Linked DNA regions of Homo sapiens. The protein of the gene in region 1 interacts with the protein of each later gene in a biochemical or structural test. Each region holds a gene or a part of one and is shown on either strand. Other genes may lie near its edges.

What was found.
Region 2: the proteins of IL16 (region 1) and TRPM1 interact in a test that uses a peptide from one of them, tested with the Homo sapiens proteins (one large-scale study listed by IntAct).
Region 3: the proteins of IL16 (region 1) and ZNF599 interact in a test that uses a peptide from one of them, tested with the Homo sapiens proteins (one large-scale study listed by IntAct).
Region 4: the proteins of IL16 (region 1) and LPAR1 interact in a test that uses a peptide from one of them, tested with the Homo sapiens proteins (one large-scale study listed by IntAct).
Region 5: the proteins of IL16 (region 1) and RALBP1 interact in a test that uses a peptide from one of them, tested with the Homo sapiens proteins (one large-scale study listed by IntAct).
Region 6: the proteins of IL16 (region 1) and APPL1 interact in a test that uses a peptide from one of them, tested with the Homo sapiens proteins (one large-scale study listed by IntAct).
Region 7: the proteins of IL16 (region 1) and SLC2A7 interact in a test that uses a peptide from one of them, tested with the Homo sapiens proteins (one large-scale study listed by IntAct).

The regions. Positions count from the first base shown.
Region 1 is NC_000015.10:81,311,879-81,314,558, reverse strand, and holds the end of IL16 (pro-interleukin-16), read right to left. Parts: 3' UTR 1,304-2,680; coding exon of another isoform or gene 1,156-1,303; 3' UTR 501-1,155; downstream 1-500. Other genes in the region: STARD5 (stAR-related lipid transfer protein 5), read left to right, coding at 1,156-1,303. UniProt on the Homo sapiens protein: Interleukin-16 stimulates a migratory response in CD4+ lymphocytes, monocytes, and eosinophils. Primes CD4+ T-cells for IL-2 and IL-15 responsiveness. Also induces T-lymphocyte expression of interleukin 2 receptor. Ligand for CD4.
Region 2 is NC_000015.10:31,098,926-31,103,165, reverse strand, and holds the start of TRPM1 (transient receptor potential cation channel subfamily M member 1), read left to right. Parts: upstream 1-1,440; 5' UTR 1,441-1,509; intron 1,510-4,240.
Region 3 is NC_000019.10:34,770,416-34,774,596, forward strand, and holds the start of ZNF599 (zinc finger protein 599), read right to left. Parts: upstream 2,801-4,181; 5' UTR 2,427-2,800; coding exon 2,409-2,426; intron 1-2,408. UniProt on the Homo sapiens protein: May be involved in transcriptional regulation.
Region 4 is NC_000009.12:110,937,471-110,940,970, forward strand, and holds part of LPAR1 (lysophosphatidic acid receptor 1), read right to left. Parts: exon of another isoform or gene 2,442-3,500; intron 1-2,441.
Region 5 is NC_000018.10:9,478,513-9,482,012, reverse strand, and holds part of RALBP1 (ralA-binding protein 1), read right to left. Parts: exon of another isoform or gene 3,491-3,500; intron 1-3,490. UniProt on the Homo sapiens protein: Multifunctional protein that functions as a downstream effector of RALA and RALB. As a GTPase-activating protein/GAP can inactivate CDC42 and RAC1 by stimulating their GTPase activity.
Region 6 is NC_000003.12:57,230,729-57,234,228, forward strand, and holds part of APPL1 (DCC-interacting protein 13-alpha), read left to right. Parts: exon of another isoform or gene 1-36; coding exon of another isoform or gene 37-39; intron 40-3,500. UniProt on the Homo sapiens protein: Multifunctional adapter protein that binds to various membrane receptors, nuclear factors and signaling proteins to regulate many processes, such as cell proliferation, immune response, endosomal trafficking and cell metabolism.
Region 7 is NC_000001.11:9,012,924-9,016,423, forward strand, and holds part of SLC2A7 (solute carrier family 2, facilitated glucose transporter member 7), read right to left. Parts: intron 2,320-3,500; coding exon 2,194-2,319; intron 1,946-2,193; coding exon 1,758-1,945; intron 713-1,757; coding exon 602-712; intron 1-601. UniProt on the Homo sapiens protein: Probable sugar transporter. Even if its physiological substrate is subject to discussion, it is able to transport glucose and fructose. Does not transport galactose, 2-deoxy-d-glucose and xylose.

The DNA.
Region 1 (2,680 bases):
CCTGCATGATGTCAGGAAACATCTGATGGGCAGGCATAGTGCTACCTGGGGTTCCTGGTGAGGCTGAGTGGACAGTTGCATTCAAGTAAAATGCCAAATGCACACCACAAAGCCTATACCACCTTTGTTGTCCTGGCCGTTGAGAAGTTTGTCACAGTGAAGATCGCTTCCTGTCCCTACCAAGTTGTGTTCCATCTCCACATCGTGTGCCCCTTTGATTCTGGACTTCCAGTCAGCATCTGTGCCACCTGCCGTCCTCTGAGCTTCTGCCACCCCTTGGCCAAAATCCCTTCATAGGTGCTCAAATTATTCGCCAGTTCTCTAAATAGCAGTTCTCAAAATTTTGGCATAAGGCATTATTATACCCTTACATATATTTGAGGGCTTCATAGGGCCTTTGTTCTTGGGGGTTATAGCTATCATTATTTGATGTATTTGAAATTGTAACTGGTAAATTTGAGAAATGTTAAAAATATTTTAACATAAAAATGCACTGCATGTTAACATAGATAACATTTTTATTTTAAAAAACTATTTTTTTAAAACAAAAAATACTGTGAAAAGAGTGGCATTGTTTTTATATTTTTGCCCATCTCTTTCATGCCAGGCTTAACAGAAACTCATACCTGCTTGTGCGTGTAGTCTGTTGCAATATCACATATCATGTAACCTCCGGAAAACCCCACTGTATGCATGTGAGAGAAGGCGAATCACATGTTCGTGTTGTTATAAAAATAGTGTTAACTTTGTAGACCCCTTGAAAGGGTCCCAGGAGCCCCCAGGAGGTTGCAGACCCTAAATAGTGAAGGGCAGCATCTCTTCGTTCCTCTCAGGGCCTGGCACAAAGTGAGTTCTCTGAAAGCATTTGCTGAGTGAATCGGGCAGCAGGGTACTGGGTTTTTGGGCTGGGAGTAGGGACTTCTTCCTCCCTGGAGGCCGGGAGAGGCTGTGGAATGCATCCCCGACAGGATGGGTTTCCATCCTGAAAATCAGCAGGTCCAGAGAGGACTCCTGGGTGGAGGGCACAGCAAGGGATGAGACGCGATCACTGTATCATGGCCATTTCCACTGGGCTGGGCTCTGCTCACCTGCCTGGCGCTCGTCCCCAGCACCTCTGCTGCAGATCATAACACAGCTCTGCTGTTGCCTTCACAGGGAACCCACCAAGACCAACCTGGTCACATTCTTCCATACCGACCTCAGCGGTTACCTCCCACAGAACGTGGTGGACTCCTTCTTCCCCCGCAGCATGACCCGGTTTTATGCCAACCTTCAGAAAGCAGTGAAGCAATTCCATGAGTAATGCTATCGTTACTTCTTGGCAAAGAACTCCCGTGACTCATCGAGGAGCTCCAGCTGTTGGGACACCAAGGAGCCTGGGAGCACGCAGAGGCCTGTGTTCACTCTTTGGAACAAGCTGATGGACTGCGCATCTCTGAGAATGCCAACCAGAGGCGGCAGCCCACCCTTCCTGCCTCCTGCCCCACTCAGGGTTGGCGTGTGATGAGCCATTCATGTGTTCCAAACTCCATCTGCCTGTTACCCAAACACGCCTCTCCTGGCAGGGTAGACCCAGGCCTCTAACCATCTGACAGAGACTCGGCCTGGACACCATGCGATGCACTCTGGCACCAAGGCTTTATGTGCCCATCACTCTCAGAGACCACGTTTCCCTGACTGTCATAGAGAATCATCATCGCCACTGAAAACCAGGCCCTGTTGCCTTTTAAGCATGTACCGCTCCCTCAGTCCTGTGCTGCAGCCCCCCAAATATATTTTTCTGATATAGACCTTGTATATGGCTTTAATGCCGCAAAATATTTATTTTTCCTTAAAAAAGGTGTCAACTTGGAAATAATGGTTTAAAAACAGGATAAGCATTAAGGAAAAACACTTTCAATGTGTCTTCCATTTGATGAATTTGTTTTTCTCTCTTTATCCCCGCAAGGTGGAGTTTCATGTCCTCGGTGAAACCAGACAGTGTGAATCTGTTCCAGCCCAAATCTGCAGCATTAGGGATGAGTTCTCAGAAGTGATTCTGAACTGAGCACGCACTCATGTCTGCATGGGGAACTCTGGGGAGAAGAGCCTTCCTTTTCTTTCCCTTGGGCATTTGCCTTTCCTTGTCGTCTTACTGAGGCGGAGGCAGGAGGTCTCTGTCTTCCAGGCCCTGGCCAGGCCATCCTGCCATCAGGAAAGATGGAAGAGTAGGCCTCCGTCTAGCAGCCCTGGCTGGAAATCCCCCCTCTAGATCCTGCTGCAAGACTGTACAAACTCACAGGGGCCATGTCCACCCAGGCACATCATCAGAACCAGGGAGCACAGCCTTGCCACCTAGAAGGGGCCTCAGCAGCCGTGCAACTTTCTTTCCCTATCTCCAATCCAGAGAGGGATCCTCTAACATTCTCTAGCAACCTCATCTGCACCCCCACCACCTTCCTTGTAAGAAAGACCACGTGTGACTAAAATCCCTTCACGCTGCATTTACCCAGGTTACTATTGTGCGCGCAAAATGTTTTCACAGTGTTCTCAGCCTTTGCTCCTCCAAACAGAAAACGTTTCCCCTGCGTTACTGTTACTTCCCTATTTTTGAGTCCTGGGGTGACTGTCTCTTAAATGTGCCAAGATGTGAGCAAGCTTTAAAACATGACAGCTCAGTGTTAAGGAGACAGAAAGCTTC
Region 2 (4,240 bases), about 50 Mb from region 1:
GGAGAGCCACTGACTGGCAGCCGGTCGGGCTGGCCATTGGTGCTGACCACAGAGCCTCCACACCTCCCAGCCATGGCAGTGCCGGCCATCAGCTCACTTCCCCATGTGGTCTTTCCCCACTGCTCCCAGACTGATTTCAGATGCCCCGGATTGCCCTGACTGTGCCTTCAGAATTCCGGCCACGTAGCACCCTCCCTCAGCCCCCGGAAGGGTTCCCGCTGAAGCCGTGACTCTCTCAGGCCTCAGGAGCCAACACCAGTTCAAGAAAGAAGACTCGGGAGCCAGGCCAGGGAGGCTGCTGCGGTCATTGTGCGCCCAGGGGCTGTGCGCGCTCCAGCAAAGCACGTGGGAGCCACTCACCAGACCCTTTGCACGCCCACTCTGCGGTGACAGACCCTGAGAGAAACGAATGAAAGCAAAGACAGACCCAGAAAATGGCCTGGCACATGTGCTTCCGTCAGAAGTTCAGAGATTCCCTGAGCCCCAGGCTGTCTGCCAGGCATTGGGTGGGGGAGTGAGCCCAGCCTCCAGCTTCAGGACTCTACATATGGGCAGAACTTGACAACCTGGGCACTCCCACTCCACCCCACCTGCTCTCTGGGCAAGCCACCCTCTCACATGACTCAGAGTCCTCATCTGTAAAATGGGAACACCCCTAATTGCCCTTACGTCCAATCTGTCTGCTCCTCTGTGAGAAGCGGGAGGCGGACAATGCCCAAGAGCCTCAGATGCTGGGGAAGACCCAGCCCCTCTGCAGAGAGGGATAGTTCAGGGTTTGGGTTTTTTCTTTCCTCCTGGGCTGAGAAAGCTCATGGAAAGCTGGAATAACCACGCATACTGTTACAGCAAATCCAACAGAGCTCCCACCGTGGTGGTTTTCAGGTGACTGTGGATGCCAAGCAGGCAAGCTCCTGGTGAAGGGGGGAGAGCAGGGATTAGAAGCACTCAGAAGGGGCTGAGAGTCATGTGGGGCTCACACTGCATTTGCAGCTGGGTTCACCCTGACCTCAGGCCCAACTTAGATGAGGAAGGATTAGCAGTAATTAGTGCCATGTGCCGCCTTCTCCCAGCTCCCCGGGGCACGAACACTGCCCAGCTGATGAGGGGATTCTGAAAGAACCATTATGTCCAATTGTCTCAATTATGCAAACCCTGCTGACATTTCCAGCCAGGGAAGGGCGGCTGGGTGGGAGGGGGCCATGGCGGGGCCACTTCAAAGGAAAAGCTCTAGCTCCCCTACCTCTCTCACATCCTAAGGCTGCCTTTGTGGGATTCCACACAGAACAGCCTGGAAGCTTGGGGCCCTGGCTTCCTTTTCTGGCCTGGGAGTCAGGTCATGGGGCCATCGCTTCACAGCAATCATGAGGGCCCAGGCCCAAGTGCTCACATGCTCCTCATGGGGACTGCTCCTCTTAAAGGGTGGGCCCTCCTCACCCAGCTCCCTGCCCTGGCCAAGGAGGAGGCTGAAAGAGCCTGAGCTGTGCCCTCTCCATTCCACTGCTGTGGCAGGTAAGCTCAGATGCGGGTAAGCACAGGTGAAGGGAGGTCAGGTGCAGGTATCCTCAGGTGTGGGTAAACTCAAGCGTGGACAAACTCAGGTGCAGATAACCACAGATGCAGTTAAGCTCAGGTGTTGGTAACCTCAGGTGCAGGTAGGCTCAGGTGCAAGTAAGAGCAGGTGCAGGCAAGCTCAGGTGTGCTTTCTGGGGCCTGTTACTCATCTCCTCTTGAGGCTGGCTGGACAGGACCCTATGGAGCAGCTGGTGAACCTGTGTTCAGCCTGGGTTCCAAGAGGCTGTCTCAGCAGAAGGGACCCACCAGGTTGATTCACAGAGGGGATAAGTACTCTGTCAGCTGGTCTCAAAGAGGCTGAAACCCTCTGAGCTTCCCTCAGGGCCAGCTTCTAAATCCAGGTGCCAGGGATCTGCTCAGGAGCCCCGGCTCCAGGCCTCAACCTCTTGCCTGTCATTCCTTAGCATCTTACTTTGCTTCAGGGAAAAGGTGCACCTTCCTTAGAACCCCAGAAAATGCTGAAGTTCTAGGAGAGACAGGGTTTATACTTGTAAGCCTTTATCAGCTGATATTTCACCTGTGAAAGCCTTGGGGAAGAGATTGGTTACACGGAACAGGATCAGGAGGGGAGATTACTGCTCCCTCTCACTGCTGGGAGCAGTGCAAACTGGTTTCTGGAAGGCAGTTCAACAACATGCAGCAAAGCCCTGCAAGTCCACACCTAGGAACCCATCCTGAGGAGCGAATCCTGAAGGGATGCCAACATTGACACAGCTTTGTGTGCTACCGGGAAGCACAGCAAACAACCCAAACGCCCAGAAGCAGAGGGCTGGACACATCAATCATGGTCTGTCCATAGGATGAAACATCACGCAGTCACTTTTAAAATGACAGAGAAAAAGGCATAATAACCGTACAGAATTATTGTGTTTTTCATTACACACACATGCACCTGTCTAATCTATTCACGGAAAAAGCCTAGAAATACAAGGAAATATCAGTTGTTTTAGGATGGAGGCCTTATGGGTGGTGTTTATTTATTCTTTTGTACATTTCTACATTTTTTGTCTTCTTTAATCATTTTCTATCACAAATTAATTTTCCTTTTTTTCCCAGAAAATATATCTTTTGTACTTTTTATTAGTACATCATAGTTGTGCATATTGTGGGGGTACATGTGATTTTTTGGTGCATGTATACAATGTGTATGTTTTTTTAAACCTTAGCAAAAATTAGCAAAAGTAGTGGGGGAGGTAGGGAGGAATGAAAATATTTGCAGGGCCAGGCGCGATGGCTCATGGCTGTAATCCCAGCACTTCGGGAGGCTGAGGCAGGCAGATCACGAGGTCAAGAGATAGAGACCATCCTAGCCAACATGGTGAAACCCTGTCTCTACTAAAAATACAAAAATTAGCTGGGCATGGTAGTGCGCGCCTGTAGTCCCAGCTACTCGAGAGGCTGAGGCAGGAGAGGTTGAACCCAGGAGGTGGAGGTTGCAGTGAGCCGAGACTGCGCCACTGCACTCCAGCCTGGGCGACAGAGTGAGACTCCATCAAAAAAAAAAAAAGAAGGAAAGAAAGAAAGAAGAAAGAAACAAAGAAAGAATATTTGCATAAATTGTGTTTGCGTTGACAAGGGATAGGAACTGAGAATGGGGAAGGAAGATGAGACACATTTTCTCTGTCTGAATCAGATATTTAGGGAGGAATTAAGAACGGAGCCCTGCCTCTCTATGAGTGCACTTGATGAATACGGGACTGATTCTGGGAAAGACTGCCTTTGGTCAGGTTCTCAAAACACCATTGTTTTGAACTATCCAGCAGCAGTTTTAATTCATGGCATTTGCAATTATATTTATAGCATAAATTGTCTATTCTCTGCAGTGTATTTTTTAGCCCTCCTCCCCCAGAAAATGTAATTGGAAATATCAACTCATGTTGAATGTGTTTGCTGTACCTGTTTATGTTTTATTGATTATTTTCTGGGAGAAGTTTGGAGTTGTGTTTGGTTTGGCTCTGTGCAACCTCATTTATTTGCTCTGTAAAGCTGATAAGCACAAGAAGTGAAATGACACTCAGGCATTTTAAGATGCGAGTCATCTTCATTCTGAACTAAGTGAAAACAAAACAGATTTTCTATCAACCTAAAATCCTCCTACTGGGGGCAGTAGATGTTTTTAGAAAATTGGCTTTGGCTTTGATTGACAATGTTTGGAAGATGTCCTATAATTTGAGAGTGTATGTGTGTGTGTCTGGGTGTGTGTGTGTAAATGCTGGACCTGGGAAGATGGAAGCCCTCAGCCAGGAGAATAAGAGGACACAATACCCCCAAGCCTTCCATGACCTAGAGATTAAGGGGATTTAACGTCTTAAAACCTCCATTAAGTAGACAGTAGCAAGAGACATGTTGCCCTCAGTGATATGCAAAGGCATATCTGATGGGTCAGTATCTGCCATCCTCCTCTTTTGCAAGCTCTGAGGTTAGACTCAGCCATGGGTGAAGGAATTACAGCATCCATTGGGAGCAGGCAGAGTCCAGGAAAGAGATTTTTCTGTTACCTCAGATGCCCATCGCGCCAGGAGCAATTTTCCCAGCCTCTTGTAGAAAGCACATATTAGTATCTATCTCACTGCTTTTCAGAAACTGTATCTTCAATTGCTAAGTGGGGAAAAATGCATTTACAATGCTAGAGCTGACTTTAAGAAAACAAGTTAACATCAGGCCACAG
Region 3 (4,181 bases), on another chromosome or scaffold:
ACTCCTGAAAATATTGCCAGAGGTATGGAAGGAAGAGCAGAGCCTTCCTTTGCCTCATAGAAGAGGCACCTGAAGAGGTGCCAACTGCCTAGGGCTTGGGAGAGCTCAAACAAAGTTTCCCTGCCCTCAGGCAGCTGGGACTTGTAGACTCCCTGGAATATCCCACAATGAGCGCCAACCTGTTCTTTTTCTTCCTGAGCCACGGTTAGCACATTTCCCTTAGGTACAGGTAACACAAGTGGCCAAGGGCAATGCAGGCTGTGGCTCTAAGAACCTGGCAGCTGCCTTAAGCACCACGTCTGTCCTGGGTGAGAATGGGATGTTGGCATGATGATCATCAGATGATCACACAAGACACGTCAGCAGGTGACAAGCCTTGGTGTCACTCTATGTCTCCTCATGCCTCTGCCTTTGTCCATGCAGTTCCCTTTGCCGGGAAGGTTCCCCAAAGACCCCTTCATTCCAATGTCCACCTGCTAGAGAGAGGCCTGCACCTTCCCCTTGCAAAGTGTACTTCAGCTGTCGCCCCCAGGGATCTCCAATCCACTGTGGGTGAAATATTGGTTAAAAATGTAAGCTTCTGGCTGGGCACGTCGGCTCATGCCAGTAAGTACTTTGAGAGGCCAAAGTGGGAAGACTGTTTGAGTTCAGGAGTTCGAGGCCAGCCTGGGCAACACAGTGAGCCCATCTCTACAAAAAATAAAAAAAATTAGCTGGGTGTGGTGGCACACACCGATAATCCTAGCTACTCAGGAGGCTCAGTGGGGAGGATTGCTAGTGAGCTGCGATGGGGCCACTGCACTCCAGTGTGAGCAACAGAGCTAGACCCTCTTTCAAAAAAAATAAATAAATAAAAAATGTAGGCTTTTATGCTCGACATACTGGATTGTTTCTGTTACTTATGAGCTATGCAACCTTGGGTAGTTAATCTGAGTCTCCGGTTCCTCTTCTGTAAAGAAAGGAAAATGAAAGAATTTTACTCTGAGAAGAAGGGCGTTAAATAAGGTAATACACAGAAACTGCCTCTCAGCACATTATCAATGCGCTCAGTGAAGACCAGCTACTATTTGTTGCTGTTAGTATTTTTCCTATTTGCTCCTGTCGCACCCTAGGAGAGCTCAATGCAGCACACATCCAGGAGCAGCCTTGCAGAGATCTGGCGACAATGTGACAGAGAAAATCGTCCAATGAGCTTGGCATGTGCAGGAGAGAAGAATGGCAGGGGGAGTGTCCTGGTGGATTGGGCAGTGACTTTGCAGCCATGGTGGGGTATGGGGTGGGGTTGGGTTAGATGAAATCTAAGTAGGATGGGAGCCCCAGAGGATAGAATCTCATTCATTAATCACTTATCGACTAAGTGGTACAGGCCCAGAACAGAATAGTTTTGGGCCTGGGGATGAAAAACAGAACAGAAGCTGACATTCTGGGGTTGGGGGACAGATCCTCAGCAATAAACAATCAAGATAAAGTCAGAAGACTCTAGAAAACAACACAAGAGTGAGAAGACCACAAAGACTGGGAGAGACTTTACATGATGCAACCAGGGAAGCTCTCTCTGAAGAGACCCTGGAACAAGGTTAGATTGAAGTTAGAGAACAGACCAGGTGAGGAAAAATGAATAGACAACTCCTGAAGGTGATCAGAGCTACGAGGAGTAAACAGTGTGACATGCTGGAGAGTAACTTGGGGCCTTATGTGCTCACACTCCAAGAGACATACATTCATGTACACTGTCATTAATGAATATTGTGCTGGATTTGCTTTTCAAATACAAGAGCATGTGTTAAACAGAAGCACGGATTCACTGCTGTTAGGCGGCAAGCCAGATTCATTTGTAATAAACAGACGGCATCTGCAAAGATAAATCCAATGAGCTTCTTGTCTTCTAGCCTCCTGCCAAAAATGCTGCTCCCGCCTCACCTCTTGCCCTCGAGGCTCTCATTCCCTCTCCCAGCTTTTGGTAGGGCCAGACTTCCGCTGGAATGATCCCCTAAAACAACAGCAGGACCTAGAGAGTCCTTCTTCAAAGACGGCACCTAGAGTGATGCTCTCCGAGCAGTGAAAGACAGGACCCACGTCACAAGCGTACCCTCTCCAGCTCCCTCCACAGAGAAAATTACTGAGACTCGCATTTTAGACCCGAGGGAATGGAGGCCGAGGGCAGCGAGGCGACAGCTCCAGGTTAGAGCCAGAGACAGGGACCTCTCCTTACAACTCCTGTCCTGGATTCAGGACCCTGGGTAGGAAGTGATTAGCCCTGCCCTCTCACCTCACCCTCTCCCGGGATCTCCATAACCTAGGGCATCAAAAGGGAGAAGCACAGAGTCCCGGCATCCGCCGTATTACAGCGGATGGGTGCATGCGGGCGGTGACCCGAGCTCGCGCGGGCTGCGGAACCCTCCACTCACCAACGCCGGCGCCGCCATGGGCCCAGGGGGCTGGGTGAGGCCGTGAGAGTCGGCGAGGAAGCCGGTCCTGCGGGCTCGGCCGACCCCGGGCTCCGGCTCTGGGCTGCGAGGGACCTCAGTCCCCGCCGTCGTGTAAAATGCACACAAGGTTCGCGGCGCCGCCTCTGCGCGCCGTGAGGACACAGGGCTGTCGCCAAGGCCCCAGGAAGGGTTTTGCAGACGCTTGTGGGGGTGGGATCGCGGCTGACATAAAAGCGTGTAAGTGGGTCCTATCCTCCTCACTGTCCGTCTCTACTCGGTCTCGAAAAGTGGCCCCTGTCTGGCGTTCTACCCAGTGTAGCGTTGGCAACCACAGCAGCCGCAACCTAACGGCGGACGAAGACTGGACGCCGGAAGTCCCGCCCACGCCGCTACGGGAACGCCCCTCTGCGCCTTCCGTCTATGGCTTGGGGTCGGCTTCCGTCCCTTGTAGCACTGCCTTCTGGGTAATGTAGTTTGACGGAATCCGGGTGGTACCTGGAGCGCACTTTCTGTTCTCGGTGAGGCGGCTTCTCAAGGCTCCCAAGAAAGGGATTGGCTTCACCTCTTCTTAAAGGAGAGGCACACAGAGTTCCGTGGAAATTATCTGAGGCAATGACCCACTCTCAAATGTCTCTACCAGGCAACTCACGCCTTGACTTTCCTCCCTGTGTATCCCTGCGCCAGCAGTTCATCTCTCTGAGCCTTGAGATGGAGATTCCTAAGGAAAATGAAGATAATTATTTAATATGATAATATTAAAATTTCCCCTATCAGTAATTTTCAGATGACATCAGCATTACCTGCGAATTTGTTACCAATGCAAGTTCTTAGTCCCCACCCACTGAATCAGGTACTCTGGGGGGTGGGACCCAGCCCTCTGCTTAACTTGTCCAGGAAAAGTGGATGCTGCAAAACATTTGAGAACCAGACTCTTTAAATTCCAGTAAATAAATGAGACAAAGCCACCTGTTTGGTGGGAAGTAACTAAGAATTGCTTAGCACTGGGCCTGGAACATACCGATAAGAACATAAGAGCTATTGCTGTCATTATTAATATTCTGTATTATTGGCAACATCATCACAATACACTGCTAGGGGAGGGTCTGAGATACTTCTTTGCAGACTCTGATATTTGTCAAAACAAATACGTTGACTGATTCAACAGGAGCCTCATGAATACTGTTTAAATTTTACATAATAATACGTTGCAGCATTTGGCGTATGCATCTTTTTAAAACGGTATATGCAGGAGGGTTTCCTAATATACAGGTAGACCTATTGCCCAAGGGATACTTTCTTACATGATTCAAAACTTAGGATCACTGAGACTAATTACCTGCAGCCCTAAGGGAAGAGTGGAGTTGACATGGTTTCTAGTTTGTGATGTAAGATGGCGTGTCACTGTTCATCTCTAATTCACAGCAACCAGGATCTGACCCCTCCCCATCTGCCCCTCCAGCCCCCAGGGAAGCCAGAACCAGGCACAAACCAGATGGCCCAGCTTATGCCCAGCAACTCAGGGTCACCAGATCTTGTCTCATCAAGACACTTTCAGCCCACCACCCAAACCTGTAGCCCACATGAAGAGGGCAATAATCCTGGACACTGTGAAAAGTAAAAGCATTACATCCAAAGAGGCATCCCCAGGATGGAGCAGAAATAAGAAAACATAATGAAGACACAATTTTGCAATCACTTCTGCCTATATTCCATGGCCTACAAACCACTCAAATAGCTCCACATGTAAGAGAA
Region 4 (3,500 bases), on another chromosome or scaffold:
ACCTAACCTCTCCTTACCTCAGTTTTTATCAACTGGAAAATAAGGATAACAAATCAATAACAGTACCTATACGCCATAGGGTTGTAATTTACAAATACTAATTTCTAAGGTAGCACATGATTTATGCCAAATAAGTATTTCACAACTAAAAATAATTATTAAGATCCAGTACTCACTCAAAAGCAGCTTAATACAAGATCATGCTTAAAAACCAGCCATTGGTATTGCCCATTATTAATCTCAAAGATGACTTTATTTTAATATAACTTGACTCATAACAAGTCAGTTGCTGACCAACAAATTCTTCTTTTGATCATGAAGACTGAATAGGTCTAAAACCCAGGGATCATTTTGATGAAGTGAAAATGGAAACTGAGTAATCATTCCCAGAATAAATGGAAGTAAAACAAACATATTATTTACTGAGCACCCATTGTAGCCAGGAGTTTTCCAGGCTGTTGTATTTTAGAAGGCATAGAACATAAAGGTGTCGCTAGGTTTGGCTCCCACATAGCTGAATAAAGTGGCATTTACTGTAGTGAATTCACTACGGCTCTGGTCTTCAGTTTTGAAGGCAGAGAAACTTGGTTTTGTCATCACATGCATTCCCTCAGCATTTATTGACTACCTACTTTGTACCAGATAGCCGTGACAGGCAATGTGGCAACGTGGAGAAAACAAACAATCATTACAATCCTGCCTGCCCTCACAAACCTGGCAATCTGGCAGTGAAGACAAATACTAAAAACCAAATGTACACAAACTAAAGTAAAATAACCAGATTATCAATGGACTAATTTACAAAGAGAAGAACTTCGAGTAGACCAGAATTCTTGTTCCTACTGAAGTGGGAGACCAGCAGGACTTGTTTTCACAACGCTGCTGATCAAAACAGGATGTAGCAAAGAAACCAATCCAAACCAGCAAGGACCAGGAATCATAATACATTTGCATTAGACATTCCTACCAGCACCATGACGGTTTACAAATGCAATGGCAATGACTTGGAAGTTAACCTTACATGGTTTCAGGAACTCCCCACCCCTTTTCCAGGAAGTTCATGAATAACCTGTTTAATTATATTTAGCATTAAGAGTGGGGGCCCAGGCATGGTGGCTTATGCCTGCAATCCCAGCATTTTGGGAGGCCAAGGCAGGAAGATCACTGGAACCCAGAAGCTCAAGACCAGCCTGGGCAACATGACAAAACCCCATCTCTACAAAAAAAAAAGAAAAAAGAAAAAAAAAAATCTGGGTAGCTGGGTGTGGTGGTATGCACCTGTAATCTCAGCTAATTGAGAGGCTGAAGTGGGAGAACTGCTGGAGCCTAGGAGGTCCAGGCTACAATGAGCCAAGATCATGCCACTGCACTCCAGCCTGGGTGATACAGCAAGACCCTGTCTCAAAGAAAAAGAAAAAAGAATGGGTATAAATATAACTAGCCAGCAATCCATTAGTGCTGTTCTGTGCTACCCTGCCTATGAGATAGCCCTGCTCTGCCTTTGGAGTGGTCACTTGGCTGTACACTGTTACGCTAACAAACTTGCTTTCTTTCACTGTTGGTTCACTCTTGAATTCTTTCCTGGGCAGAGCCAAGAACTCCCCCAGGCTGAGCCCCAATTTTGGGGTTTGCCTACATTATGACAAGACCAACCCATGTCTCCCATGTAACCGTGCCTATCTAAGGATGGACACTTACAATTCAAATAGGGGAGCATACTGTAGGAATGGCATTAGGCACCACGCCTTGAAAAACATCTGTTAGGATTGTGACTTCCCCATTCTAAACTTTCCAACCACTCCCTGCCCACATCCTGCCCATTCTCTTATTCTTGCTACTTTTCTCAAAAAGGCTACGGTCCATTTAATTTCTGTTTCCTATATTACAATCTTATTCCCATCTTTCTTCACCAAATACCTTCACCTATCACCGTGACGGGGTTTTCCATGTTCTGAAAGTTCTTCCATCTCACAGCTTTAAAAATCATGCTCTTTATTCCAGAGATGTCAACTGCATTCGATCTTTGTGGAGTATACTAGTTTAAATATTATTTCTGTTATTTTAAAGTTAGTGGTTGTGCAGTGGTAGTAGTTGGGCATGGGAAAGTGGCATTTAGGGCAAATGTACACTGAAACACTAGCTCCTATAGCCTCAAAATGATTATTTCAACCTGAAAAACAACCCAAAGAGGCACAAAAGTATGTGAATCATTCAGTACATTGCACACTGGAATACACAAGATATTATACAAAGGTCAAAATTAAAACAAGAACTTGGCAGGTTAATAGTCCAAGTTCAGTAGTCATTTGCTGCTGGCAATTCTGCAAACTATGAGTAGCACTTGTCGTAATAGAAAAAGTTCATGCATATAAAAAATGTCAACCAACATTTAGGTCATCAGCAAATAAATATTTGAGTCAATACAGGAAAAAAGTCTCATGTTATTTAATGTCTCATGTTTTATTTCATACAAAAATAGCATCCATGGTAAACAAAGATGTGTTTTATCCACATCATGGAAAATGTGGCCTTGTGGCACAGGTGTGCTTAAGGTCCTGTTAATAAACATACAGAGAAACCATTTTTGTAGTTCTACTAATCTTCATTGGATGCAATAAGACAATCTCATATCTGAGGTGATGGGGTCCTCAGTGTTTCAGTTAGTTAGGCAGGGTTTTAGGTGTGTCAGTGATCCCAAGGCTTAGTTGCTATTCTCACAGGTCTACAAGAGGGTCAACAATGAGTATAGCTGAAAATGATGTCCATGATGCAGTCATCCTAACCAAAACAGACGAGACCTATGCATCAATCTGAATACTACTTTATATAATGATCAGCAGGACCCTGTCTCCTTCCAGTGGCTAAAATTAAGGTAATTCCCAGAGTTTCAGAGGAGCCACATAATCCCATGTTACATTCACCCAAAAATGCTATATAAATTGGAGCACAGAGAATTATAGGAACTTTCCATTGAATTTCTGTGGGGAAAGAGGAGGTGATAAAATGTTTTTTTTCAATTTCCATAGGGAAAGATGAAATGATAAAAGGTTTTCAAAAAAGATTTTTTAATGTGATCAAACGTTAACCTGAATATAGTCTATGGAGAATGTATAATTCCATTGGGTAATTATTTTAAAAAACTCTCACTCTACTCTCAGCTCCAAAGGAAATGTCTGTATCTGTCCTTTTCATGGAGCCAGCACAGAGCGTAGAACATAGTAGGTGCTCTTTAACTACCTTCTACACACATAAGTGAATATATTCTTCTTGATCACTACTATGAATTTTTCATCCAAGAAAAACAATGCTTATTTAAAAGCAGAAGGTATTTGAGTCTACAAATCTTGCTCTTCACCTTGAAATATGAATTAACCTCCACTACTACAAATAGAAAATTAATAGAAAATAAGGAAGTTTTCATGAAGATGACTGTCAGAGAATATCATTAATTCCAATCTGTTTTGTTCAGTAAATCTATATAAAACCTTGATATACTACCT
Region 5 (3,500 bases), on another chromosome or scaffold:
TACAATATGGATGAACCCTGAAAACATTAAGTGAGGGAAAGCAGTTGCAAAAGATGATATATATGGTTTCATTTATATGAAATATCCAGAATATCTGAAATATCAAGAGATACAGAAGTAGATTAATGAGGGCAGGGGAAATAGTGAGTGACTACTGCTAATGGGGAGGTTTTTTTGGGGGAGTAATGAAAATGTTCTAAAATTGACTGTGGTGATGGCTGTACAACTCTGTATATACAGACTGTCCCCAACATACAATGTTTCAACTTGGGATTTTTCAACTTTACATGGTATCCATAAAATCATTCTGTTTTTCACTTTCAGTATGCAATAAATTACATGAGATATTCCACACTTTATTATAAAATAAACTTTGTGTTAGAGGATTTTGTAGGCTAATGTAAGTGTTCTGAGCATGTTTACAGTAGGCGAGGCTAAGCTATGATGTTAGGTGCATTAAATGCATTTTCCACTTACAATATTTTCGAATTGCTATAGGTTTATCAGGATGTAACTGTGTCGTAAGTAGAGAAAAGTAGAGAAGCATCTGTACTAAAAACCAATGAGACTGCGCGTGGTGGCTCATTGAGCCCAGCACTTTGGGAAGCCGAGAGAGGTGGATCACTTGAGCCCAGGAGTTTGAGACCAGCCTGGGCAATATGGCAAAACCCCGTCTCCACAAAAAAAATACAAAAAATTAGCCAGGCATAGTGGCACACACCCGTAGTCTCAGCTACTCAGGAGGCTGAAGTCGGAGGATCATCTATCTGAGCCTGGGAAGTCAAGCTGCAATAAGCTGTGGCTGCACCACTGCACTCCAGCATGGGTGACAGAGTGTGACTCTGTCTCAAAAAAAAAAAAAAAAAATTAAGTCACACAGACCAATGAATAACTACATGCTACATACCAATGAATTGTATAATTTAAAGGAGTGAATTTTATGGATACGTGAATTATATTTCAATAAAGCTGTTTTAAAAAAGAAAAGCAGGTTCAAGTCTTTGCCATGTTAAAAATCTGTTAACCCTTTATCACCCTCTGCTACCACCTCTTTCTATTCTCCCCTTCATGGCTAAAATTGATTTATTTATTATAATCTACATATGCTTTTCCACTCTCTAACCTCAACTCCTCAACTCAATGAAACCTACCTCGTCCCCCAACCATTCTATCAAAACTGTTCTCACACAGTTATCAAATTGAATAACCTCCTCAATACCAAATCAATAGACTCTTAATAACTTCTTTCGCTCAACTTTTCAAAGCATTTAAAGTATGGCTTTCCTTTTGTTTAGGCCAGGGTCCCACTCTGTCACCCATGCTGCAATGCAGTGGCACAATCACAGCTCACTGCAGCCGCAACCTCCCAGGATCAAGCGATCATCCCACCTCAGCCTCCTGAGTAGCTGGGACCACAGGTGTGCACCACCACAGCCAGCTAATTGCTTTTTTTTTGCAGAGACACCAGTCTCCCTATGTTTCCCAGGCTGGTCTCAAACTCTTTGGCTCAAGCAATCCTCCCACCTCAGCTTCCCAAAGTGCTGGGAGGACAGGTGTGAGCCACTGTGCCTGAGGCTTTCCTTTTTTAAAAAAAAAAATTAATTTCTATTTTTTCTTGAGAGTTGATTGTGAAGTATAACTTCCTTTAAAAATGATCCCAGCCCAATGCAGTGGCTCACACCTGTAATCCTAGCACTTGAGAGGCCAAGGCAGGCAGATCGCTTGAGCCCAGGAGTTCAAGACCAGCCTGGGCAACATGGCAAAACCCCATCCCTACCAAAAATACAAAAATTAGCCAGGTGTGGTGGTATGTGTCTGCAGTCCCAGCTACTTGAGTGGCTGAGGTAGGAGGATGGCTTGAGCCCAGGAGGCGGAGGTTGTAGTGAGCTGTGATGGTGCCAGATCCCACTTTGGCTTCTATGACATTTTCTCATGATTTCTCTACATCTCCAAACACTTAGGAATTTCCTTTCCCAGCTCTTCTTCTATCTGGCTTTAAATGTTCTCCACAGCCTATTTCCAGAACTATTTTATGTTAACAAACTCTTCTTATTTGGTGTTATCTAAATCAAAGAATTCAGATACCACTCATAATATAGCCTGTTATACTGTACTCCAAATCCACATTCACAGTTCCATAGCAGATGATTCCACCTGGATGTTTCACAGATAACTTCCACTCAATATGTTCTGAAGCTAAAATACTGTTTCTCCTCAAATGTGCTTCTCTTCCTGAATTCCCCATCTCAGTATATTTTACCATTGTCTCTTCAATCACCCAAGTTAAAATCCAAGTCATCTTATTCTATTATTTTTCCCTCACTCCCCATATCCAATTGTTGCTGAATCCTATGAATTCTACTTTCTAAATATTTCTATTACCCTCCTCCTCCATAACCCCTCTAACATTGCCTTAGTTTGGACCCTTATTTCTCACTTCGATTAGTGCAAAAACCTCCTAAACAGTCTTTCTACATCCATTCTTACCTTCTCTCCATCCCTTCTGAAATCCTTACTCTACAATTCCAGAATGATCTTTCTAAAATAAAAATCTTGGCCGGACATGGTGGCTTACACGTGTAATCCCAGCACTTTAGGAGGCCGAGGAGGGTGGACTGCCTGAGCTCAAAGTTTAAGACCAGCCTGGGCAACACAGCAAAACTCCATCTCTACAAAAAAAAAAATACCAAAAAATTAGCCAGGTGTGGTGGCGTTCACCTGTGGTCCCAGCTACTCGTGAGGCTGAGGTGGGAGGATCGCTGGAGCCTGGGAGGTCGAGGCTGCAGTGAGCCATGACGGAGTGCGGTGAGTGCCACTTCATTTCAGCCTGGGTGACACAGTGAGACCTTATCTCAAAAAAGTAAAAAAAAAATAAAAAGAAAAATCTTATCATGTCTCTCTGTTCATTAAAATACATAAACCCTATTGTTATCTACAGGAAAAAATGGTAAGGTCCTTGGAATGGCACGCAATACTTTTGAGGATACCTGCAACCTCATCTTCTGCTACTTATCACCACAACTAATGCTACAGCTACAGAAAACAACTTCCCATTCTCTTCCATATTCTGTGCTGACTGCACCCCTGGCCCGCGCGTGCCTTTCCGCCTGCCGCGCCCCAGGACACCCCAGCTCTGGGCGCCACCAGGGAGCTGCTCGCCCTGACCAAGGCCGGCGGCAAACCCTTCTGCGCCTGAGGCAGGCTGGCCTCTAGCTCGGTAGGAAACCCGCGCTCAGGCGGACAGCGCCGACTCTTTTTACTGAGTTTCCAGAGGAAGACTAGCCCAGCTACCGCGAAGCTGCCAATCCACCGGAGAGGGGGCTTCTGAACCCGGACTCCTGGGAACGTCGACAAGCACGGCACTACTACACCGAGGCCTCCACCGCCTGGGCCTGAGCACGGCCGGGCCATTCCCAAACTCGGGACGCAGGAGAGGATCTCGGAGAAGAAGAGGCCACCCTGAAGCACACAGTTTACGTCAAAAGTTTACATGGAGAAGG
Region 6 (3,500 bases), on another chromosome or scaffold:
GCAGAGCAGCAAAGAATATGAAGACTTTTAAAGCTCATGGTAAGTTTTTTGTTTTTTTTTTGAGACAGAGTCTCACTGTCACGTAGGTTGGATTGCAGTGGCACAGCCATAGCTCTGAAACCTCAAACTCCTGGGCACACGCCACCAAGCTCAGCTAATTTTATTTTATTTTATTTTTATTTTTTGGAGATGGAGTTTCGCTCTTGTCGCCTAGGCTAGAGTGCAGTGGCATGATCTTGGCTCACTGCAACCTCCACCTCCCGGGTTCAAGTGATTCTGCTTCCTCAGCCTCCCAAGTAGCCCAACTAATCTAAAAATTTTTTGTAGAAGACTGGGCGTGGTGGCTCATGCCTGTAATCTCAGCACTTTGGGAGGACGAGGCAGGTGAATCACGAGGTCAGGAGTTTGAGACCGACCTGGCCAACATAGTGAAACCCCGTCTCTCCTAAAAATACAAAAAATTAGCCGGGCGTGGTGGTGGACGTCTGTAATCCCAGCTACTCGGGAAGCTGAGGCAGGAGAATCACTTGAACCCGGGAGGCGGGGGTTGCAGTGAGCCGAAATTGTACCGTTGCACTCCAGCCCGGGCAACCGTGCGAGACTCCGTCTCAAAAAAAAAAAAAAAAAAAAAGAAAATTTTTTTTTTGTAAAGACAGGTTTTCACTATGTTGGCCAGGCTAGTCTTGAACTCCTGGCCTTAGTGCTGGGATTACAGATGTGAGCCACTGTACCAGGCCCTAAAAGTTTTTTGTTTGATTAGTTTTTAATTTTTTTTAGATCATTTAGATCTAATCAAAAGTGGCCTGCCAGTTGCTACCTAAAAAAGAGCCTTGGCCTGGCACAGTGGCTCATGCTTGTAAACACTTGAGGGTGGGGGTTCAAGACCACCCTGGGCCAAATAGCAAGACCTCATCTCTACAAAAAATAAAATTAGCTGGGCGTGGTGGCATGCACCTGTAGTCCCAGCTATTCAGGAGGCTAGGGCAGGAGGATCGATTGAGTCCAGGAGTCTGTGGCTGCAGTGAGCTATGATCACACCACTGCACTCCAGCCTGGGTAACAGAACGAGGCTTTGGCTCTTAAAAAAAAAAAAAAAAAGAGCCTGGGAGTGATGGAAGACTATCCTGAATTACAGTTACCCTTCTTTTAGTTTTGATTTATAGTAACTACGTATTAAATTAGGGAGAATTTGCAAGTCCAAAATCCAGCTGATCAAACAAGCATCTTTTAAGAATACTGCCTGGAACCTAGGTGGGGAAAAAGCATGTTTGGAATTACCTTGCCCAAACCAGACAGTTCTGCAAAAGATCATCCATTGAGCCAGAAAATCTTAAGCTTATAGTAGATGCCTTGTCCATATTTATATGTTGTTTTGAAAATCAAAATCAAAATAAACCTTGTTAATTACTAAGAACAGATAATGATCTTTAGAAAATTAATTGATTTTATATGTAGATATGTATCTTAGTGATTCATCTATGATAGAACAGTGAAGACAAACCCCAGTCCCAAATGGGATCTTCTGTTTTTGCATAATATGAATTAATCATGAGATGTGCCTTTCCTCCCAACATTTTGATGTCTCTGATTGGGATTCCTCTTAGAGTTGATGGTATATTAACAATTGCTATCAGCCAGGTAGCAGTAGTAATGTATTTCACATTGCCTGCAAATGTACATACTTGGTTGTTTCTCCTAGTAGCATACTGGCCAAGTGTAGTCTCTCAGTGTTCAACTAACAGATCAATTTTGCCACCATTTGAGAAAGGAATATCAGTCCTGGTTGTTGTCCGAAAACCTTCTTTTGACACCTGGTGAGATGTCAAATGACATCATCAAAATTTGCTGAATGAGTATCAGTTTCTTGGAAGAAAATATTAGGGACAAAAATGGAGTACTTCTAAGAAATACTTACCTCCTCATGGCACAGAGAATGATAATGTATAGGAAAACATGCATATTGATGACTCTCGAGTTGAAAAGTGGTTCATGGGCCCGGTGCGGTGGCTCACGCCTGTAATCCCAGCACTTTGGGAGGCCGAGGCGGGCAGATCACAAGGTCAGGAGATCGAGACCATCCTGGCTAACACGATGAAACCCCGTCTCTACTAAAAATACAAAAAATTAGCTGGGTGTGGTGGCTGGCACCTGTAGTCCCAGCTACACGGGAGGCTGAGGCAGGAGAATGGCATGAATCCGGGAGGCGGAGCGTGCAGTGAGCCAGGATCACACCACTGCACTCCAGCCTGGGCGACACAGTGAGACTCTGACTCAAAAAAAACCAAAAAACAAAAAAACAAAAAAGAAAAGTGGTTCATAAGATTCGAACTCTGTGAAGTTTTAGAAATAAATTTATGATGCTTATATTTGTTATGTTTACATGAGAGCTGTATATGATAAAATTCTGTGTGAAGGTCTGTTTTCATAAATATAAGGTAAAAAATTCAAGACATAAGAAAACCTTAAATCATAGCTTAATTGCCAGCATTGTTTTGTTTGAGTAGTACAAAAATGAAAATGATGCATCTTACAATGGATACCATCGTAGATTTGATGAAATGGTACCATATTGATTCTATTTTTTAAGCTACTAACTTTAAACAAACAGCAATTATCCAGTGTTGAAGTTGATATTGTTAGCTTAAAATAGGGAATCTGTTTCAACTTGCTTTGCGCTAAGAAGAGCTTTTAAATTTAATTATGCTACAAGTTTTTACATAAATATGTAACTCCTTGAATTGGAATTACCCATTTTTAGAAAAAAAAAAAACAAAACAGAAACGAAGCGGCAGATTTTTTTTAAGAATGGCACTAGCCAAACAAGATTTCCTGATGCTTTCTTTTTTACATCTTAAAATAGCACTATATGGAATTGTAGTGGAGTGTTTGAAAAATATTCTGTCAAATCTAAATCTCTGAGGCCTGGGGAAGTGGAGGACTGAAAATAGGGACTTACTGGCATCATGATTTTGTGTCCTTTCCCCTTCTTTATACTATATTGACTTAGCTTCCTCCTCTGAAAATAGGAAGCTAAGGAATAAGTTGATTTAAGAAAAAAAAATTTTTGGCCATGTGTGGTGGCTCACACCTGACCTGTAATCCCAGCACTTTGGGAGGCTGAGGTAGGAGAATTGCTTGAGCCCAGGTGTTTGAAACCAGCCTGAGCAGCATAGTGAGACCCTGTCACTACAAAAAATAGAAAAAAAGTAGCCAGACATGGTGGCACATGCCTGTAGTCCCAGCTACCTGGGAGGCTGAGGTGGGAGGATTTTTTGAGCTCAGGAGGTCAAGGCTGCAGTGAGCCGAGATCATGTTACTGCTCCAGCCTGGGAGAAGAATGAGACCCTATCTCAAACAACAACAGCGACACCCACAACAGTTTCTAAGGCTGAGGCATAAATTATTTTTAGAATAAAAATATATCTTTTAGATTTTAAGCTGCAGTTATCTCCAGTAGTTATTGGTATTTTCATTCTTCCCCTGGGCCTTTGGGATGTAAT
Region 7 (3,500 bases), on another chromosome or scaffold:
TGTCACCCAGGCTGGAGTGCAGTGGTGCCATCTCCCTGCTCACTGCAATCTCCACCTCCCAAGTTCAAGTGATTCTCCTGACTCGGCCTCCCAAGTAGCTGACATTACAGGTACCCACCACCATGCCCAGCTCATTTTTGTATTTTTTAATAGAGATGGGGTTTCACCATGTTGACCAGGCTGGTCTCAAACTCCTGACCTCAAGTCATCCACCTGCCTCAGTCTCCCAAAGTGCTGGGATTACAAGTGTGTGCCACCACACCTGGCTAATTTTTTTGTATTTTTAGTAGAGACTGGGTTTCATCATGTTGGCCAGGCTGGTCTCAAACTCCCTGACCTCAAGTGATCTGCTCGCCTTGGCCTTCCGAAGTGCTGGGATTACAAGTGTGAGCCGCCGCGCCCGGCCGGCTCTGAAGGAATTTTGAGTTTTCTGGTCAAAGTCATGCAGGTAGTTAGTATGTGTGCATCCTAAAGTCCATGTCCCTTAAATGACCCCAGGACCAGGGCCACCAGCACTCAGTTCACTCTGTGGGGCTCCTGTCTGCCTGGCGGCACCTGGCCAGAGACCCTCCAGCAGGAAGGATGCCTCCTGCTCACTCACCGAGGTGATGGTCATCACTATGTTGACGACGCCAGAGCCCACCGTTACATATTGGGAGTGAGCGGCCTCCACGCCCGCAGATGTGTAGATGGTGTCCGCATAGTAGTTGATCTAAACAAAAACACAGGGCTGTCAGGACAGGCCGGAAGACCCAGGACGCTGGCTTAACTTTCTCAACTCAAGCCACACACAGTTCTGCAAGCCTGGGTTGGGGACCCTGGGACAGGAAGAGGGTAGCAGGTGGTGGGAAAAAGAGGCCTGACCTGGAGTCGGGACACCAGGGTGGAGCCCGGCGCTGCCCTGGAATCCAGGGTCGCAGCTCCTCCCTCTCTGGGCCTCAGGTTTGGCGTCTATAAAATGGAAGTCAGACCATACGACCTCCAAGAGCACTTTTCCCTCCATCATTCAGTTACTCTAAGAGCTCAGATCCCAAAGAATGACTTCTTACCTCTCACTCTGGGCCAAGCCAACCGCAAGTTGAGTCTGTCTTCTGGCCCCATGCCAAGGACATTGGCACAAACAGCCCTTTGAAAGGCCACGTGTGCTATTCCACATCTGGTGGCTCCCACCTGGGCCATCTACCCTCCCACGATCACTGGTTAAACATCCATGAATCCCTGAGGCCAAGGCCACCTCTTCCCGACACGCCACTGGAGCAACTGGGTCACCCACCCAATCTCCAGTGTTTTAGCTTCTGTCAGATCTCCACCCTTCCCTCACACCATGGTTAGATACAGTTACAGCCAAAGAGCCACGGTCGCAGAAAGCGATGCCACAAACATCACAGACAAGTGGGCCCAAGATGGGCTCCTGACACAGGCTGGGCCTACCAACCCAGGCCTGGTGACCTGAGCTTGGACCCAGGAGACCTCAGCTCATCTCAGTCTAGCTGGTCTCTTGTATAGAAGGGAAAGGACTATTGGCAGGAGGCATTCCTTCTGGGGACTGGGAAACAGAGAAAAATGAAGCTGGCATGTGGGGAGAGGCAGAGCACGGAGGCAGAGAGGAGTGAGGTTTCTTCCTGACATCTGGCTCTGCCTGGACTGATCCTGGCCCCACTGCCAGGCCAGGCCTCTGTGGGTGGAACTGTGTGTTGCTATCCATGAAGCCTGGGTCTGCTTCATCTGTCTCCCTGCCTGGCCACCGTCCCACATACCGCATTGATGCCCGACAGCTGCTGGCCGGCCATGAGCACGATGATGGAGAGGAGCTGCCAGCGCAGGGACCGCAGGGCACAGAGGTGCAGCACAGACAGGTGGCCCTCGGCGCGCTCGGCCCGGGCCTCCGCACGCATGTCCTCCAGCTCGGCCTCCATGTCCGTGTGGCCTCTCAGCCTCCTCAGAGCTGCGGAAAGCAGAACCACCCGCTCAGAGGGCCGTCTCCCTGCAGGCTGGGCCCCAAGCCCCCATGCTGGCCCTGAGCTCACCATTCCCTGACCTGACCTTGGTTGTGCCCCAGTTGCCACCCCCCCACCCCGTTCAGCTCCCAGCTCTCACCCCTGACCCATGGCGACCCTGACTGTGGCCCTGACCGTGTCTCTGCCTGGCCCCCGGGGTGGGCAGGGCCTGGGAGAGTAGCCGGCGACTTCATACCTTGTCGCGCTGTGGCTTCATCTCCTTTCTGAATCAGGGAGTAGCGGGGGCTTTCGGGGAAGAAGGGCAGGGTCAGCAGCTGCAGCAGGGCGGGCACCCCTGTGAGCGCCAGAAGCACCGGCCAGCCTGCAAGGAGCCAAGGACTCAGGATCCCGGGGCCTGGGCACCCCCTGGCCCACCTACCACTGTGCTCGGAAGGTCACGCTCCTATGTGTGAACCAAGGACTGTGGGGACTTCATTCTCACCAGGGTACTCCTACAAATGGTTTCCACATTCAAAACGGAGGGAATCATGAGAGTTATACAAATTTACACGTCATTAATTATTTTGCAGGAAGAACACCGTTTCTCTAAAGAATAGGCAATGATTTAAACACTTGAACCCCGGAGAAAATGAGCTCAGTCTTGTTCCTACTTTTATAGCAGGAAAGGGGATAATCTCTGCCTCATTAGGGCCATGGTAGGGCAGGGCCTGGACCCTGCGCTGGGTCTGAGTGAGCTCCTTCTGGATGGCTTGGCCTAAGGAGGGGAACTGAGATTCCACTAAGAGAACAGGGTCTCCGTCTGCCTCCCACCCCTGCTGGTATGGTGGGAAGTGGACAAGTTCTTTTTTTTTTTTTTTTTTGAGACAGAGTCTAGCTCTATCAGCCAAGCCGAAGTGCAATGGTGCGATCATAGCCCACTGCAACCTCAATCTCCCAGGCTCATGTGATCCTCCCACCACAGCTTCCTGAGTGGCTGGAACTACACGCGTGCATTACCGCACCTGGCTCATTTTTTTTTTTTTAATTTTTAGTAGAGACAGAGTCTTGCTATGTTGCCCAGGCTGGTCGTGAACTCTTGGGCTCAAATGATCCTCCTGCCTTGGCCTCCCAAAATGCTGGGCATGAGCCACTGCACCCAGCTGACAAGTTCTTTAATGTCTCTGAGCCTCAGGCAAGAAGTGGCGAGGGCTGAATGAGGCACAGGTGCTAAGCGTCATGCACGGTGGATTCCCCAGCTGATGTCTCTCTAATTGACGATTTAATACTCAGCGGCTCTGGGAGTTTAGGAATCATTACTGTTAACGATCTTTCATGGAGCACCCTCCAGGTTCTGAGTCTCTGAACCTCTTCAGGGTACTGTGGGGACCACAAAGACATAAATCCACCCATTAAGGAATATGTGCAGAATTTGGGTCATTCAGAAATGTCTGTAAAAAACCCCGGCCGGGCATAGTGGCTCATGCCTGTAATCCCTTCACTTTGGGAGGCGGAGGCAGGAGGATTACTTGAGCCCAGGAGTTACAGATCAGCCTGGACAACATA